Linked DNA regions of Homo sapiens: region 2 is linked to region 1. Evidence: fine-mapped expression QTL. Tissue or cell type: whole blood. Region 1 holds a variant in brackets; the other region holds the start of a gene. All regions are shown on one strand. Distances are between the middles of the regions. Region 1 has its middle 35 kb from the start of FEZ1. Region 2 holds the start of FEZ1 (fasciculation and elongation protein zeta 1).

Region 1 (9,273 bases):
AAGCAGAAGCAGTGGTGGGGTGGGGGACAGGGTTGGAAGAAGCCTCCATGTCATAGATGGATTCAAAGATTTTCTGTTTGGCAATTGGTTGAAAGAGTTTATCTATAGACCTGGAATCAATAGAATGAAGTGTCTGGGTTAGGATAAAAGGTCATGGAGATCAATATTCCTTTTATGCAGATGAAGCTCCCAGGCAACAGGCTTCAGAGATAATAGATTGTAAATGTTTCTTATCAGACTTAAAAAGGTGCCAGACTTTTGGTTAATTCTCTCCTGGATCAGGAAAAAGACCTGGAAAGGGAAGAGGATTCTGTACAGAATGCAGATATCCCCGTGAGAGACAGCTTTACAGGGCCATTTCAAAATGTGTCAAAGAAATGTATTTTAGGGTAAAATACTTCAATTTCTTTCAGGGCCTGCTATCTGTTATGTGATGCTATAATAGAGTCAGTTTGGCATTTAGTGTCTTATCGTTACAAAGAATCTGTTTGATGTCAGTCTTAGGATGACAGTCTTAAGATCTGTGTCTTAATGTTAATGTTGGTCAGTTGTCCCTGAATTTCAAAGGGAGGAGGGTACAATGAGGCATATTTAACCCCCCTTCCCATCATGGCCTGGACTAGTTTTTCAGGTTAACTTTGGAATGCCCTTGAGCAAGAGGAGGGGTCCATTCCACTGGTTGGGGGGCTTAGAATTTTACATTTGGTTTTGCAAGAGTCTGTTTTTAAGCTGGGAGAAAATAGAATATTTTTATAAAAGGAAAGATCCAGAAACAAAGGAAAGTTGAAGAAATCAGGATGATAACCTAGAGGAAGATTCTTGAAGAGGTTTGAGAGAGGATAAAATTAAAAGTTCTGTGGAGTCTTTTCTATTTCTTAAGGCAAGGGGTGGGGAATTTATCAGAAATGGAGATTCTAAGGATTGACAGCAGAGATTTTGATTTAGTATATCAGGGATGGAACACAGACATTAACACTTTAAACCAGCCCTCCATGTCTTTGCTACATAGGTAGTCCAACAGTGCTCTGAGGCAGTGATAAATGCAGAAAGGGTAAAGTGCTTGGAGTAAAAGGATTTTTGTTATCATCCTTGATTTGCCCTTTTACTTACCATCAGGAAGGCTTTGTGTTTCTCGTTTTGGTTTGGTTTGGTTTATGTTGTTTTAGTGCCCATGCATCATATACTGTGCAAGCCTCTAGAAAAGGTTATTTAATTTCTCCAAGCTTCAGATCTTCATCTGTAATAATATTATCTGCCCCAGAGTAATGCTGAGAATCAAATTAAATTATATATGAGGCTATCTTCTTCTTCTGGCCAAGATGTAGTAACAGAGACTAGATTTACCCTCCTACAGGAAACAACTACAAAAACCTGACAACATACATGAAATAATAGTTTTCAGATATTGGACATCAGGTGATAGAGGACAGCGATCCCTGAGATGGGAGAAACAAATGAGATGATCCCTACTTCTGCCCCATCTTACTGTATGGAAGATACAGCACAGAGAGTGGAAACCCAGGTGGAACCTAGCAGTCTCCCTGAATTTACAAGATGGAATTGGGAGTCTTGGGAGGCAAGGTGGCTTAAGTTTGCAGGGCAGAATGCTGAAGAGGAAAGAGTGCAGAGATAGGGGTGGAAGCTCCAAGATCATGTCTTCAGCTGAGTATACATCAGTGTAAGCATATGAGGAAACTACCTTAGTTTGAGGAAGAGACACTAAAATGATTCAAGGAAATAATTCCTAAACTTCTCAAAGAGCTAGGAATATTTTGCATTTCCATAAGCCAGAAAGGAAATATATATATCATAATTATGTATAATAATTTTATACATCAATTATAATTATTTAAACAGGGTCTTACTCTGTCACCCAGGCTGGAGTGCAGTGGCATGAAATGGCTGACTGCAGCCTTTACCTCCCAGACTCAAGCAGTCCTCCCACCTTGGCAGCCCGAGTTGCTGAGACTGTGGGCATGGGCCACCATATTCAGCTAATTCTTGTATTTTTTGTGGAGACAGAGCTTCACTATGTTGCCCAGGCTGGTCTTGTACTCCCGGGCTCAAGCAATCTGCCTGCCTCAGCCTCCCAAAGTTCTGGGATTACAGGGATGAGCCACTGCACTTGGCATATATATACATAGATATACACACACATATACATATATATATATAATTAGTAAATGATATTGTTTAAAATAATTCCTAAAAGAGTATTTCCTCAGGACTGGGAAAAATTAGTCTTGTAATAAAGGCTGCTCTGGTCCTCCCTAACAAAGTTTAAACATCATCCCCATCCTTGAAAGTAAGTGTTCCAAGCAAGTTAACTGTATCCCTGAAAAAAAGCTCAAGAATATGTATATAAATATAAAAATATCCACCTCCCAACAAGAAAACATTCAGAGCATCTTACATTCAACCAAAAATGCCCAGACATGGAAAAATCAGGAAAATATGACATATAATGAGAATAATCAATCAATGGAAACAGATCTGTAAATGACACAAATGATATAATAACTAAAGGCATAAAAGAGTTACTTTAACTGTATTTCATATGTTTAATAAGGTAGAGAAAAAATGAGCAAGTTAAATAGACTGGAAGGTTTTTAAAGGTCCAAATTGAATTAGAGACTTAAACTACAATGTCTAAAATGAAAAATATGTTATTCATTCAGAGCAAGATTCTGTCTCAAAAAAAAAGTTTTTAACTTCTTTTTTTCCCACTTTTTTGGGGGATATCAGCTCCAGCTTATTGAGTTAATGGCACTTCTCAGTTCCTAGTATACTCCCCTCCCTTTCTGTGTCCTTAACTATAAAATGTTCCAAGTGTGTGATATATGTCCATTTTATTGGAGTATCTTCTCGTGAAATGTGAACTCTTTTATGATATGTATATATTTTTAATTTATATAAATTATGCTATAGGTCTCAGCTTGTTTCTTACTTTTTTTCACTCAGCAGTGTTTTGAAGATCATTCAGGTTGATATGTGGACGTTTAGTTCACTAATCTCATTGCTGCCTAAGGAACCAGTTTGTCCTGACAGTACTGCAGGCCCCAAGGAACCCTTAGAGCATTATCTGTAAAGTCAGATGTTTGTAGGCCCCAGAGCAGATTAACTGGGTGGAGATGCAAGTAGTTGCGGCCATATGGCAACGCAGGACATGTTGCAAGACAACCAAATTCTTCAAGAGAGGCCAGGAATCAGGATTTTTGCAAGAAATCTCCTGATTTTTTCAATGTTGGAAAAACTGAAGGTCAAACAAAATATTTCTGCAAGCTCAATTTAGCCATTTTCTAACCTTCACATTAAAACATTTGAATCAGAGAATGAGATCAGATTTGTGTTTCAAAAATTAAAGAAAAGATGGACTAGAATAGAACAGAGGAGTCCAAAGATCATGAGTTGAGGTATAAATATGATTGAATTGAAGGGCCTATGGGCCGTTAAGGTGAAGATTATTGGAAACACAGACCTATCTTCCTGAAAATGTTGTGAGGAGTGGGGATTTTTTACGATATAAATCATTATTACATAGATTTGGGCATACTGTGATTCAAGTTAAAATGTATAAGTCGGCTGGGCACAGTGGCTCACGCTTGTAATCCCAACACTTTGGGAGGCTGACGTGGGTGGATCACCTGAGGTCAGGAGTTTGAGACCAGCCAGACCAATATGGTGAAACCCCATCTCTACTACAAAAAAAAAAAAAAAAATTAGCTGGGCGTGGTGGCGGGCGCCTGTAGTCCCAGCTACTCGGGAGACTGAGACAGGAGAATTGCTTGAACCCAGGAGGCAAAGGTTGCAGTAAGCTGAGATTGCGCCACTGCACTCCAGTCTGGGTGACAGAGTGAGACTCCGTCTCAAAAATAATAATAATATAATGTATAAGTCATAATGTTGACATTTTAAATATATTTAAAATATTATTTTATATATTTGTTCTTTCATTTAACAAAACATATCAGTAAAATTCATACTCATAACTTTGCACAAGTGAAGTTCTATGCTTAAACACTTGGCACATTTTCTTTTGTAGTAGTTAAAACTGTGGTTTGGTGTCAGACTACTAAGTTAAAATCTCTGAATTATTGACTATATGTATATCTTTGGATAAGTTAGTTAACCTGTCTTTGTTTTGGTTTTATCATCTGTAAAAAAAAGGCTCTTTTAAAAGCTGACTTCTCAGGCCAGGCACGGTCTCACGCCTGTAATCCCAGCACTTTGGGAGGCTAAGGCGGGTGGATGTAGGCAGATCATTTGAGGTCAGGAGTTCGAGACCAGCCTGGTCAACATGGTGAAACACCGTCTGTACTAAAAATACACACACACACACACACACACACACACACACACACACAAATTATCCAGACGTGGTGGCGCATGCCTGTGGTCCCAGCTACCCGGGAGGCTGAGGCAGGAGAATTGCTTGAACCCAGGAAGCAGAGGTTGCAGTGAGCCGAGATCACTCCATTGCACTCCAACCTGGGTGACAGAGCGAGATCCTGTCTTAAGAAAAAAAAATTAGGCCGGGCGCAGTGGCTCATGCCTGTAATCCCAGCACTTTGGGAGGCCAAGGTGTGCGGATCACCTGAGGTCAGGAGTTTGAGACCAGCCTGGCCAACATGGTGAAACCCCGTCTCTACTAAAACTACAAAAATTAGCTGAGATCGCGCCACTGTACTCCAGCCTGGGCAACAGAGCGAGACATCATCTCAAAAAAAAAAAAAAAAAAA[G/AG]TGACTTCTCATGGTACTAGCATAAAGACAGATATATAGACCAATGGAATAAAATAGAGTCTGAAAATAAACCTTGCATGTAAAGTCAGATGATTTTCAACAAGGTACCAAGACCATTCAATGGGGTAAGAACAGTCTTTTCAACACATGAGGCTGGGAAAACTGAATATCCACATGCAAAAGAATGAAGCTGGACCTCTACTTTACACCATATACAGAAATTAAGTCAGGCCAGGTGGAGTGGCTCACACCTGTAATCCCAGAAATTTGGTAGGCTGAGGCGGGTGGATGGCTTGAGCTCAGGAACTCGAGACCATCCTGGGAAACATGGCGAAACTCCATCTCCACACACACACACACACACACACACACACACACACACACAAATTAGCCAGGCATGGTGGTGTTCACCTGTAGTCCCAGCAACTCTTGCGGCTGAGGTGGGAAGATCACTTGAGCCAGGGAGGCGGAGGTTGCAGTGAGCTGAGTTTGTGCCACTGCTCTCCAGCCTGGTTGACAGAATGAGACCCTGTCTCAAAAAGAAAAAAAAAAAAGTCAAAGTGAAACAAATACCTAAATTTAAGAGTTCAAACTATAAAACCCTAAGAAGAAAACATAAACTAAAAACTTCATGACATAGGATTCTACAATAATTTTTTAGATAAGACATGAAAAGCACAGGCAGCAACAACAAAAATAGATAAATTACCCAATCTCTATTAAAAAAAATACAAAAAAATTAGCCAGGCATAGTGGCGGGCACCTGCAGTCCCAGCTACGCGGGAGGCTGAGGCAGGAGAATGGCATGAACCCGGAAGGTGGAGCTTGCAGTGAGCCGAGATCACACCACTGCACTCCAGCCTGGGCAACAGAGCAAGACTGTCTCAAAAAAAAAAAAATAGATACATTGAACTACATGATAATTTAAGACTTGTGCATCAAAGGACACTATCAACAGAAAAGACAACCTATGGAATGAGAGAAAATATTTGCAAATCATGTGTCTGGTAAGGGGTTACTATCCAGAATACATAAAGAACTCTCCCAACGTAACAACAAAAAACAAACAACCAGAGTAAAAAACGGTCAAATGACTTGAATAGACATTTCTTCAGTAATGACCAATAAACACATGAAAAGATGCTCAACACTACTAATTATTAGAGAAATGCAAATTGAAACCACAATGAGTTACCACTTCACTCCCATTAGGATGGCTACTATATAGATAAACAACAATGACAACAACAAAAACAAAACAGAAAATGACAAGCATTGACATGGATGTGGAGAAATTGGAACCCATGTACATTGCTGGTGGGAAGGTAAAATGGAGAAGCTATTGTAGAAAACACTATGGTGCCTCCTCAAAAAATTAAACATAGAATTACCCTATGATCCAGCAATTCTACTTTTAGGTGTATACCCAAAAAAAGTGAAGGTAAGAATTCAAACAGATATTTGTGTCTGTTCATAGTAGCAGCATTATTCACAACAGCCAAAATGTGGAAACAACCCAAGTGTCCACTAACGATGAATAGAGAGATGAAATGTGGCACATACAAGCAATAGGATATTATTCAAGGAATTAAAGCCTTTAATTTATTTTTATTTTTTATTATTTTTTTTTTTAGAGACAGAGTCTTGCTCTGTCAAACAGACTGGAGTGTAGTGGAAGAATCATGGCTCACTGGAGCGTTGACCTCCTCGGCTTAGGCAATCCACCACCTCAGCCTCCTGAGTAGCTGGGACTAGAGGTGTGCACCACCACCTCCAGCTAATTTTTAAATTTTTCTTTTGTAGAGACGGGGTTTTTCTATGTTGACCAGGCTGGTTTTGAACTTCTGGCCTCAAGCATTTTTCCTGCCTCAGCCTCCCAAAGTGCTGAGGTTATAGATGTGAGCCACCGTGCCTGCCCAAAGCCTTTAATATTATTAAAGAAATTACAGCCTGTAGAAAAAGCAAACTGTTTTCTCATCTGCTGTTTTCACATCTGCTCTCACATCATACCATAAAAGACTTCTGTGATCTCTCATCACCAAGAAATGAATGGAGATTTCTCCCCACCAACAACCAATCAATTAGTTCTGCAGCAGGGTCTTCAGCTGACACCAGCTGAGTATCCTCTAATTCAATTCAATTCTGACGCTGTTTACCTGGAGATGGCATTAGATCCCACCGGTTGAGGGCTCAGTCCCGCAAGACTGCCCACTACTTCTGATGCCAATTGTAAGCTCCATATTGTTTTACTCGTGCTTCTGACCAGTCAACAATACATTGGGCTTCCTAAAACACTCTCAATGGGTTTGATTTATTTGCTAAAGCAGCTCACAGAACTCAGGGAAACACATTTACTAGTTTATTGTAAAAGACATTACAAAGGTTACAGATAAAGGGATACATACGGTGAGTTATGAGGGAAGGCACATGGTGCTTCCATGCCCTCTCTGGGTATGGCACCCTCCAGGAACCTTCATGCATTTAGCTATCCAGAACATCCCCGAAGCCACCTGTTCTGGGTTTTTATCGAAGCTTCATTGTGTAGGCATGATTGATTAAATCATTGGCCGTGAGTGATCAACTTGACCTTCAACCCCCACCCCTTCCCAGAGGTTTGGGGGTGAGGTTGAAAGTCCCAACCCTCTAATGATGCTTTGGTCTTTGCAGTGACCAGCCCCCATCCCGAAGTTACCCAGGGCCTGCCAGTCACCAGTCAACTCATTAGTATACATAAAGACACTGATGTCTTTGGAGGTTCCAAGGATATTAGGAGTTGTATGACAGGAGACAGGGACAAAAACCAAATATATATTTCACAGTATCCCATAAAGCCTCAAAGGAATTGGAAAAGAAATTCTGATCCATGCTACAATATGAATAAGCCTTGAAAATATTTTGCTAAATGAAAGAAGCCAGACACAAAAGGACAAATATTGTATGACTCCTTTATTTTTTTGAGATGGAGTCTCGCTCTGTCACCCAAACTGGAGTGCAGTGGCGCGATCTCGGTTCACTGCAAGCTCCGCCTCCTGGGTTCCCACCATTCTCCTGCCTCAGCCTCCCAAGTAGCTGGAACTACAGGCACCTGCCACCATGCCTGGCTAATTTTTTGTATTTTTAGTAGAGACGGGGTTTCACCATGTTAGTCAGGATGGTCTCGATCTCCTGACCTCGTGATCTGCCCGCCTCGGCCTCCCAAAGTGCTGGGATTACAGGTGTGAGCCACAGCGCCCAGCCCTGTATGACTCCTTTTATATAGGGTAGCTAGAATAGTCAAATTCATGGAGACAGCAAGAACAATGGTGGTGTCCCCAGGGCTGGGGCAAGGGGGTAATGGGATGTTATTGTTTAATAGCTACAGATTTTCAGTTGGGGATGATGAAAAGTTCTGCAGATGGATAGTAGCACTGGTTGTACAACAATGTGATGTACTTAATGCCACTGAACTATATACATTTTAAACTGGTTAAAATGGTAAAATTTTATGTTATATATATTTTAACATAGTTTTAAAAAAAAGAACAACAACAACAAAAAAACAAAGACAGGGATAGTGGCTCAAGCCTGTAATCCCAGCACTTTGGGAGGCCGAGGTGGAGAGATCCCTCGAGGTTAGCAGTTCGAGACCAGCCTGGCCAACATGGTGAAACCCTGTCTCTACTAAAAATACAAAAATGAGCCAGGCATGGTGGGGCATGCCTGTAATCCCAGCTACTCGGGAGGCTGAGGCAGGAGAATTGCTTGAACCTGGGAGGCAGAGGTTGCAGTGAGCCGAGATCACACCACTGCACTCCAGCCTGGGTGACAAACGGAGACTCCATCTCAAAAAAAAACAAAAAAAAAAAAAAAAAAAAAAACAAAACTAATAGCCATTTCCCAAACATTACCAGCCCAATTTGTTGATAGCATGATGCTGAGTTTACTGTTTACCATAGTAAGGAAGAACACCACCTGAACAGAGCTTTGGGAATTCTCAGAAGGGGAAGGTAAGACCAAAATTTATTGATCCAGTAACTGGCCACTGAATATTAAAAATTTTTTTATTGAGAATTAGAAGTTTGGTTTAAGGCATTTCTTTCAATACAGGGTACTAGATAAGGGTTGAGTAGGAATCATAACACAACTGTAGGAGTGGAGGGAATGTTTCCCTCTCCCTACAAAGGTTTGACTCTGCTGAAATTAAATGACAATAGATTAACATGAGAAAAGGCATACAAATTTATTAATGTGCATAAGAATGGGAGTCATACAAAATATGAGACTCAAACAAGGACAAGATTGTTGAGGCTTAAATAACCTCTTCAGGGGTGTGCAGTGGTATACACCTGTAGTTTCAGCTAATTGAGAGGCTGAGGCAGGAGGATCCCTTGAGCCCAGGAAATGGAGACCAGCCTACACAGCAAGATCCTGTCTCAATAAATAAATAAATAAGAAAAGTTGCATGCTGGGCTTAATACCTAGGTTGATAGGTGCAGCAAACCACTGTGGCACACGTTTACCTATGCAACAAACCTGTACATCCTGTACGTGTACC
Region 2 (9,273 bases), 34 kb after region 1:
TTTTGGTAGGGACAGGGTTTCACCATGTTGGCCAGGCTGGTCTCGAACTCCTGACCTCAAGTGATCTGCCCATCTCAGCCTTCCACAGTGCTGGGATTACAGGCGTGAGCCACAGTACCTGGTCACATCCCAACTTTCCTAAGGTTTAACCCATTCCAGCATTAGCTCTAAATCTAAATCTCATCTATTACAAATATAAAATCTAAAAGTTCCAAATCTCATCATTTAAATCAGGTATGGGTGAAACTCTAGGTGTGATACATTCTGGGGCAAAATTCCTCTCCCATTGTGGACCTATGAAATTAGAAATCAAATGATTTGTTTCCAAAATAGAGTGGTAGAGCAGACATTGGATGGACATTCCCCTTGCAGAAGGGAGAAAATGAGGGCTGGGCACAGTGGCTCTTGCCTATAATCTTAGTCCTTTGGGAGGCTGAGGTGGGAGGATCCCTTGAGGCCAAGAGTTTGAGACCAGCCTGGGCAACATAGTGAGACCCCATTTCTACAAAAAAAATTAAAAAAACATTTTTGAAAGAGAGAAAATGGAAGGAAAACAGGGGGTCATTAGTCCAAAGCAAGCTTGTAGAACAGCAGGGGAAGTTCCATTAGGTTTCGAGGCCTGAGAAAAATCCCTTATGGTTCGATGCTCCATCCTCTGGATCCAGGGCAGTGGGCCCCATCCTAAGAGTCATTCTTTCTTTTTCTTGAAGGATAACCCATGTTTGCTGCCAAGAACGTACATCAGCCTATTTTCTGCCTGTGGAATTTCAGAGGTCTAAGACTTGTCCTTCATTTCATCTCCGTCCTTTTCATTCCAGGCTGACAGTGTTTCTGTTGGTATAAAATTCTCAGAAACCATGTTGGTCTCCTGTGTAACTTGCTACTTAGGAGTGAAAGGGATCCACACCATCATTCCTTCTTGCATTTTACTATAAGCAGCAAGGAGAAACCTGGCCAAATCTCCTACACTTTGCCTGGAAATCTCAGCTAAATATACAAGTTCATCGCTTACAAGTTCTACTTGCCTTCCAAGAGCAGGACAAAATTCAGCCAAGTTCTCTGCCACTCTATAACACAGTTTGTCTTTTGTTCAGTTTCTAACAACAGTTCCTCATTTCCATCTTAGACCTTACCAGAATCACCTTTAACATTCATATTCCTATTTGTTATAATAATATATGTATTCTCTATGACCGTAGAAACTTTCTCTACAGTCTCCTCATTTCTGAAGCCTCACTAGAATTGCCCTTAATATTCATAATTATACCAACAGTCTCTTTGGGGCAATATAGGCTTTTTCTGTCATGTGTCTCAAACTTCTTCCAGCCTCTTTGCATTACGATGTTCCAAAGGCACTTCCACATTTTTAAATATTTGTTACAGCAGCATCCCACTTTCTACTACCAAAATTTGTACTAGTTTCCTAGGCCTGCCACGACAAATGATCTTTAAATAGAAATTTATGGTTTCATGGTTCTAGAGGCTGGAAGTCCAAAATCAAGCTGTCAGCAGGGCCATGCTACCTACTGAAGGTCCTGGGGAAGAATCTTTTCTTGCCTCATTCTAGCTTTGGGTGGTTCCTGGCAATCCTTGGTGTCATTTGGCTTGTACCTGAATTACTCCAATCTCTGCCTCCTTTCCTATGCATGCTCTCCTCTTGTATTTTTTGTTTTTGTTTTTGACATAGTCTTGCTTTGTCACCTGGGCTGGAGTACAGTGGCATGATCTCAGCTCACTGCAACCTGCGCCTCCCCGGTTCTAGCGATTCTCCTTCCTCAGCCTCCCAGGTAGCTGGGATTATAGGTATGTGACACCACACCCTGCTAATTTTTTTTTTTTTTTAATTTTTAGTAGAGATGGGGTTTCGCCATGTTGTCCAGGCTGGTCTCGAACTCCTGACCACAGTTGATCTACTCACCTCCCAAAGTGCTAGGATTACAGGTGTGAGCCACCATGCCCAGCCTCCTCTCCTCTTCTTATAAGGACACCAGTCATTGGATTTAGGGCCTACCCGAATCTAGTATGACCTCATCATAACTGATTACATCTGTAAAAGTCACATTCTGAGGTTCTGAGTAGACACAAATTTTAGGAAAATACCATTCAATCCACTGCAGGTTCTAAGCAGCAGAGTTTGGAAATCAACATACTAAACATGGAACCTCTTGAAAGCATGCCTTCATTTTTAGCTCCCCAGCTTCTAGCCTAGGTCATGGAATGCAACCAATGCTTGCTGGAATTTGTACACCGATGTTGACAGCAGCATTATTTTTTTATTCTTTCTTTCTCACTCTAATCCCATGACAGATTAGTAGCATTATTCACAATAGCCAAAAGGTGGAAACAATCCAAATGTCCATGGGCAGATGAATAGATAAACAAAATGTAGTATATACATACCATGGAATATTATTTACCTTAAAAAGAAAAGAAATTCTGACATTGTTGCAACATAGATTAACCTTGAAAACATTGTGCTAAGTGAAATAAGTCAGATACAAAAAACAAATATTGTATAATTACACTTACATGAGGTACTTAGAATAGTCAAATTCTTAGAGACAAAATTAGAATAGTGGTTACCAGGGGCTGGGGAAGGGAGTACTGGGGAGTTAGTGTTTAATGGATACAGAGTTTCTGTTTGGATAACAAAATTTCTGTAGATGAATAGTGGTGGTGGTTACACAGCAATGTGAATGTGTTTAATACCAGTGAATTGTACACTTAAAAATGGTTAAAATAGTAATTTTTATGTTATATATATCTTACTACAATAAAATAAGTGTTTGCTGGAAGAATAACTGGGCTCATGTTCAGGGATTTCTCATCCTAGGTACCTAGCCTAGGCTACTTGTCCTCAGCTTTCAGTTTCTTCATAGCCTCACAAAAATAACCACAGAATCCACTAATTGGTTTCTTATTATATGCCAGGCACTGTGCTAAGCATTTTGCATGCATTATATTACTTAATATGCATAACAACAACCTTGTAGTAGATATTGGCATCCAACAGCAGATATTGGCATCTCCATTTTACAGATGAGAAAACTGAGGTACAGAGAGGATAACTAACAAGGTCACCAGCTGAAGACCAAGTTCTTTATCACTTTCAGTACTTCACAAGCTTCTCTCAAATCTGTTTGTCCCATGCTCTGAAGATCTAGACAAAAGATGGCCTCAAATTAGCCAAGACATATATATATATACATATATATACACATATATATATACACACACACACATATATATACACACACACATATATATATACACACACACATATATAGGACATCTATATGAGACATATATATGGGACATCTATATGAGACATACATGTGGGACATCTATATGAGACATACATGTGGGACATCTATATGAGACATACATGTGGGACATCTATATGAGACATACATGTGGGACATCTATATGAGACATACATGTGGGACATCTATATGAGACATACATGTGGGACATCTATATGAGACATACATGTGGGACATCTATATGAGACATATATGTGGGACATCTATATGAGACATATATGTGGGACATCTATATGAGACATATATGGGACATCTATATGAGACATATATATGGGACATCTATATGAGACGTATATATGGGACATCTATATGAGACATATATATGACATATATATGTGTGTGTGTATATATATACACACATACATACATATAGTGCCTTCTAATAAACCTGGAAGTACTTTACTCATATTCACTCCTTTAATCCCACAACAGGCCACAATAGAGTGGGGCACTATTATTTTCTTTCTTTTTTTTTTTTTTGAGTCGGAGTCTCGCTCTGTCACCCAGGCTGGAGTGCAGTGGCGCAATCTCGGCTCACTCCAAGCTCCGCCTCCTGGGTGCACGCCATTCTCAGCCTCCCGAGTAATTGGGACTACAGGCGCCCGCCACCACGCACAGCTGATTTTTTGTATTTTTGGTGGAGATGGGGTTTCACCGTGTTAGCCAGGATGGTCTCGATCTCCTGACCTCGTGATCCGCCCGCCTCGGCCTCCCAAAGTGCTGGGATTACAGGCGTGAGCCACCGCGCCCGGCGGGCACTATTATTTTCTTCATTTTACAGATGAGGAAATGAGCCACAGGGAAGTTAACTAACCCAAGGTCACAAAACTGGGCATGATCCCAAGAAAGGAGATCTAGGGATCTTTTAACCAGCTACTCTTTGTGATTTATTTATTTATTTATTTACTTTTGAGACAAGGTCTTGCTGTCGCCCAGGCTGGAGTGCAGCTTCAACCTCTTGGGCTCAAGCGATCCTCCCACCTCATCCTCCAGTGTAGCTGGGGCTACCAGGATGGGCTACCAGGATGGGCCCACCATGCCTGGCTAATTTTTTTTTTTTTATAGAGATGGGGTCTCACTATGTTGCCTAGGCTGGTCTTGAACTCCTGGCCTCAAGTGATCCTCCTGCCTCAGCTTTCCAACATGTTGGGATTATAGGTGTGAGCCACCGTGCCTGGCCTTATGATTTCTTACAGGAAGACATCCTCTGTCTATTGCTCCCACAAAGGCAAATAGGCCAACGCTTCTTCTCATCTCATTGGGACATTATTCCTGTTTCCATCCTTCTCATGGTTGAAATGTCTGTGGAATGAATGCATAAACGAGCAAAAGAGACGCTCCCTGCCCCTTCCAGTTGAAGTCCTCAGTTCAGCCCAGAGGTACTTTGCCATCAGACAAAAGTACTTGGGGTTCTCCAAGCCGACATGCTTTTTCCAGTGCCTTCCTTCGATAATTACAGTTCTTGTGCTCTTAGTTGTGTGTATTCGTGAATTATTAGATTTTTTATTGACAACTTCTATAAGCACAGGCCTATGCACAGTAGACAAGATAAATTAATAATTTTTCACAAGACTCCAGGGACCCTTCTCATTTCAGCCTCTTGAATTTTCCTGTATTATCTCAAGTCCTCCTGGGCCTGAAACCTTCTCACTCAGATTTTTCAGCTGGATCCAGCTCCCACCCAGCATCTTTGGGCGAGAAAAGCTCTCCTGCCGGCCTCCTCATTTTTGGCTTGAGGTCCGAACCCAGTTGGAGCTGGGAGACGTCGCTGGGCCTGCCCGCCTCAGCCTCCAGTAGAGGAGAATGGGAAACTCGGAAAGTCCAAAAGGGTCTTTGAGTGTGTCTGCCGGCATCCGCCAGCAGCCATCGCCTGCATTTTATCCAGAAACTAGTGTCAGGCTTTGCGAGGTATCCATATTGGTAGTTATTGCACGCTTTCATCTTGGAGTTTCTGAATATTCATGAGGGAAGCAGAAAGGCCAATGTTAAAGAGGAGAGAAACAGAAATGCATAAATATTAATAAAGGCAAGCCCACGTGCTCGGAGGAAGGCTATGAATGTTAACGAGGGGATGACGTCCAGCTCCCGCGCGTGCCAGTTGGGTGGGTGCCCGAGCGCGGGCGCGCCCCCGGAGCCCGGGCACGAGCGCGGGGAAGGGGTGGGGTGGAGGCGGGAGCGGAGCCGGGCGCCGCCGGAGCTGCGCGGGGAGCGCTCGCTGGCTGGCTGGCTGGCTGGCTCTCCGCTGCGCTGCGCTGCGCTCCGGCCGCTCCCGCGGCCCGTGGATGGGGGTGTCCGGCTGAGCCCCGGGATCCGCCTCCCTCCGCCAGGACCCGCACAGGTGCCGTCGCGGGGGTTGACTTTAGTTAGGACCCGACTCACTGCTGGGGGTGGGGTCTGGTGGGGGTGGTAAGGAGGCCCCGGGATTCTCTGACAGGACGGTCTGGGGTCGCCGCAGCTCCCCTCACCTGGTCCCATTCTGGGATTAGAAAGGAACAACGGGAGGCCGTCGCCTTCCTGCCCAGCCCTTCAGGGAGCGCAGCTGGGACGCCGCGCCAGGCCCTGGAGATGTGGGATGATGGGCACTTCCAGTATCATCTCAGCATCGGCCCTCCAGCCAGGCCTGGTGTGTGTGTGTGTGTGTGTGTGTGTGTGTGTGTGTCCGCGTGTGTGTGCCCGCGTGTGTGCGCGCGTGTGAAGGCAGGGCGGCGAGGTATGGGGGCTGGGGGAAGAAGGGAACGCCGCCCGATCGCGCTGGGGCAGTGGGTCGGTACCTCGTCCCGGGACCGTTATCTGGTCCAGTCACCGTAAACGCCCCAAGATCATCTTTGTCCCTAAAAACTTACCCCCGACCCCGCTCGTGCCCCTCCCCAGAGTGCGGAGCCTTCCCCAGACCGCGCATTCCTGCAGTGTCAGAACCGCTGGCAGCGGCCGCAGACGCCGGGAGAGCGATTGTTTTACTACAGACGGGCGGGAGAAGGGACCGGGGCGGCTGCGCGGTGGCGGGGCGCGCTGCCGTCGGGTGGGCCCCGGGCTCTGGAATGCGGGGAGCAGTGTTTGACGGCGTCGAGGAGGTATCACAGCCCGCTCTTCTTCCCTTTTGCCTATCCCTTCTCTCCTCGCCGCTAGGCATCCCCGACTCTCATCCCTCTCCCGTGTCCGGGCTTGTTTGGCCGGAAGGGCAGTGGAGTGTGTATGCGGCCTGCACGGGATGAGTCCGGCTTCCTCAGAGTGCCAGCCATTGTGCTGCCTGGAGGAGGCTTTCTTTACCCCACCGGACTGGGGGGAGGAGGGGGATCTGAGATGGAGGTGAATGGAGCAGCGGGAGGAGGGGGAGGGGAGCAAGCAGAACCGCGAAGGGGTTGCTGATCCATATGCAACGAAATACTTTTTCTGTCAAAATGTGCACAAACATGCACACTGGGTGGGTTCTGCGGAGGAGCAGTGGGAAATCTGAAGGTGGATCAGTGCAGGGTAGGTTTTAGGGACGGATATGGGGGACGAGGCACGGAATCAGTTGATCTATGGACCAAGTGATGGGAAGAAGGAGATGGAATGGGGCTTGTGTGGAGGTGCCGAGGCCCAGCGGGGTTAGCGTGGTGAAATCTCCACCGCTCCGCTCCACTCGGGTCAGCTCAGCAAAGCAGGGACTGAGCATTTGTACCGCAGCCCCGAGATGCAGCGAGTGCATCATTGTGCTGCAGGGAGACGTTTATGCGTTTCCTACTGGGTCTCTGTTAAGCCCCGTGAGTGTCTTTTCTTTTCCAAATTACACCATCTATTGGGAGTGAAAATAAATGGAATAGATTGTAGGACAATCAGACTATAGTCCTGCGCTCTGTTCTGTGGTAAAGAGAAAAAGAAAAGGCGACCCTCCCATGGTTCCTTCTTTCTGCCATTTTCATGTATGTACGTATTTATTTTTGATCTTGGAAGTCTAAAGGGAATAAGCTATCGCTTGTATTAATCCTACTTTAAGGAAAAGAAGGCTCCCAGATGAGCTATGAATGAGGATGGTGCAAGCTTGCCAGGATGGAAAATAAGGTTGTTTCAGACATTTTAGTTGAAGGATGAAAGCACTCCGTGAAGAGAGGAGGGCGAAAGAAAGTGGGCTAAAGGAAGGAAGGCAGGGTCACCATCTAAGGAAGTGCTGCCAACCCCAATCCACAGAGCCCTCCTGGAGGCTATAGTGGGGCCAGTCAGAACGCCTGACTCTCATCTGTGCCACAGCCTGAGGTCTTTCCACAAATGCTGGATTCAGTTTGGGTGTTGAGTGACTAGTTTCCCAGCACTGGCTTTCACTTTAACTTCATCTCCAGATGGTCATTCATGCAGCACTTCTTGGCTCTTGGATAATGAGTTGACAAAAAACAATCAGTCTATATTATGGACTGTTTCAAATGAGCATGTGTCTGAACCCTAGAGCTGTGATATTCATTTCGTCTTTTATAATTTTCTAGATGAATCCATTTTCTCTACACTCTGCCTGGGCAGAGTGCTTTCAGCACACTCTTCCTGTTGCCAACACTCAAAACTCAGTCTTAGTCCTAGATTCTGGTTGGATTGGCCTCTTGTTGCTGGTTAATCATATAGACTGTGTCATTTCAAATCAGAAACCCCACTGGTGTCACCATCTGCTTCTCCCCTGTCATTCCCAGAGAAAAGTACAAATTTAAAGGCAGTGTAAATACCTGCAACACTATCGGATTGGCTTTCATATCTCTGTAAAATGGAACCCACGATCCAGGAACCTTTGAACAAATAAATTGAAAAAAGAAGCCTTAGTAAAAAAGATGCTAAAATTCTTTCAGCAATAGTTCTCTTGTTTGATAAGCATATTGAAGCATTGCACAGAGAATATCATGGCAGGGATAATTTTTCTTTTACTTGAAGCACTCCCACATCACCTTTCTTTCTTTCTTTCTTTCTTTCTTTCTTTCTTTCTTTCTTTCTCTCTTTCTTTCTTTCTTTCCTTCTTTCCTTCTTTCCTTCTTTCCTTCTTTCCTTCTTTCCTTCTTTCCTTCTTTCCTTCTTTCCTTCTTTCTTTCTTTCTTTCTTTCTTTCTTTCTTTCTTTCTTTCTTTCTTTCTTTCTTTCTTTTCTCTCTTTCTTTCTTTCTTTCTTTCTTGAGATGGAGTTTCGCTCTTGTTGCCCAGGCTGGAGTGCAATGGCATGATCTCGGCTCACTGCAACCTCTGCCTCTTGGGCTCAAGCGATTCTCCTGCCTCAGCCTCCCAAGTAGCTGGGATTACAGGCACCTGCCACCATGCTCAGCTAATTTTTTTTTTTTGTATTTTTAGTAGAGACAGGGTTTTGCCATGTTGGCCAGGCTGGTCTTGAACTCCTGACCTCAGGTGATCCACGCACCTCAGCCTCCCAAAGTGCTGGGATTACAGGCATGAGCCACTGTGCCCAGCCCCCACATCACATTTCTATGTAAGTTAGCTATCCTGGTTTTCCTAGAATTATTTTTAACTTTTTTTTTTTTTTTTTTAAAGATAGGGTCTCACTTTGTCACCCAGGCTGGCATACAGTAGTGTGATCATAGCTCACTATAGCCTCAAACTCATGGGCTCAACCAATCCTCCTGCCTCAGCCTCTCCAGTTGCTGGGATTACAGGTGTGAGCCACCGTGCCCAGCTTTGATTTTTCTAGAATGATTGATATTTATTGGATGCTTTCTATATTCTGCACATTGTACTTAACACTTCAAAGATGATCTCATTTAGTCCAAAAAGTAATCTTCAAGGGAAGCACTGTTTTAAACTCCATTTTATAGATGATGAAATTGAGGCACAGTGAGGTTGATAACTTGCCCAAAGTCTCCCAACTAGGAGTGACAGGACCAGGACAGGAACCCAAAGCCTATGCTCTTAGCCATCACAGAGTACTGCCTTAATCAACACAAATCCCTGGGCTGTGAAAACTGTTTTACTCTCTACTGCATTCTGCCA

Evidence for each region. PIP is the estimated chance that this variant, and not a neighbour inherited with it, causes the effect.
Region 2: it holds the start of FEZ1, and the variant in region 1 is fine-mapped to the expression of FEZ1 in whole blood (INTERVAL, PIP above 0.99).

What each region holds. Positions count from the first base shown.
Region 1 is chr11:125,526,693-125,535,965 of GRCh38, reverse strand. No RefSeq gene overlaps it. Among named protein-coding and RNA genes, the nearest start is that of FEZ1, 35 kb to the right of the region's middle. RefSeq lists a silencer at 1,439-1,733 and a cis regulatory region at 2,822-3,295. The variant G/AG (reference allele first, on the strand shown) is at 4,740.
Region 2 is chr11:125,492,509-125,501,781 of GRCh38, reverse strand. FEZ1 (fasciculation and elongation protein zeta 1) reads left to right here and starts at 5,517. Exons shown (of 10, transcript NM_005103.5): 1 at 5,517-5,661. It overlaps LOC403312 (putative uncharacterized protein MGC39545), which reads right to left and starts at 6,568. Exons shown (of 2, transcript NR_164146.1): 1 at 6,167-6,568; 2 at 2,256-5,274. RefSeq lists a silencer at 5,330-5,579 and enhancers at 5,454-5,955, 5,956-6,459, 6,962-7,465.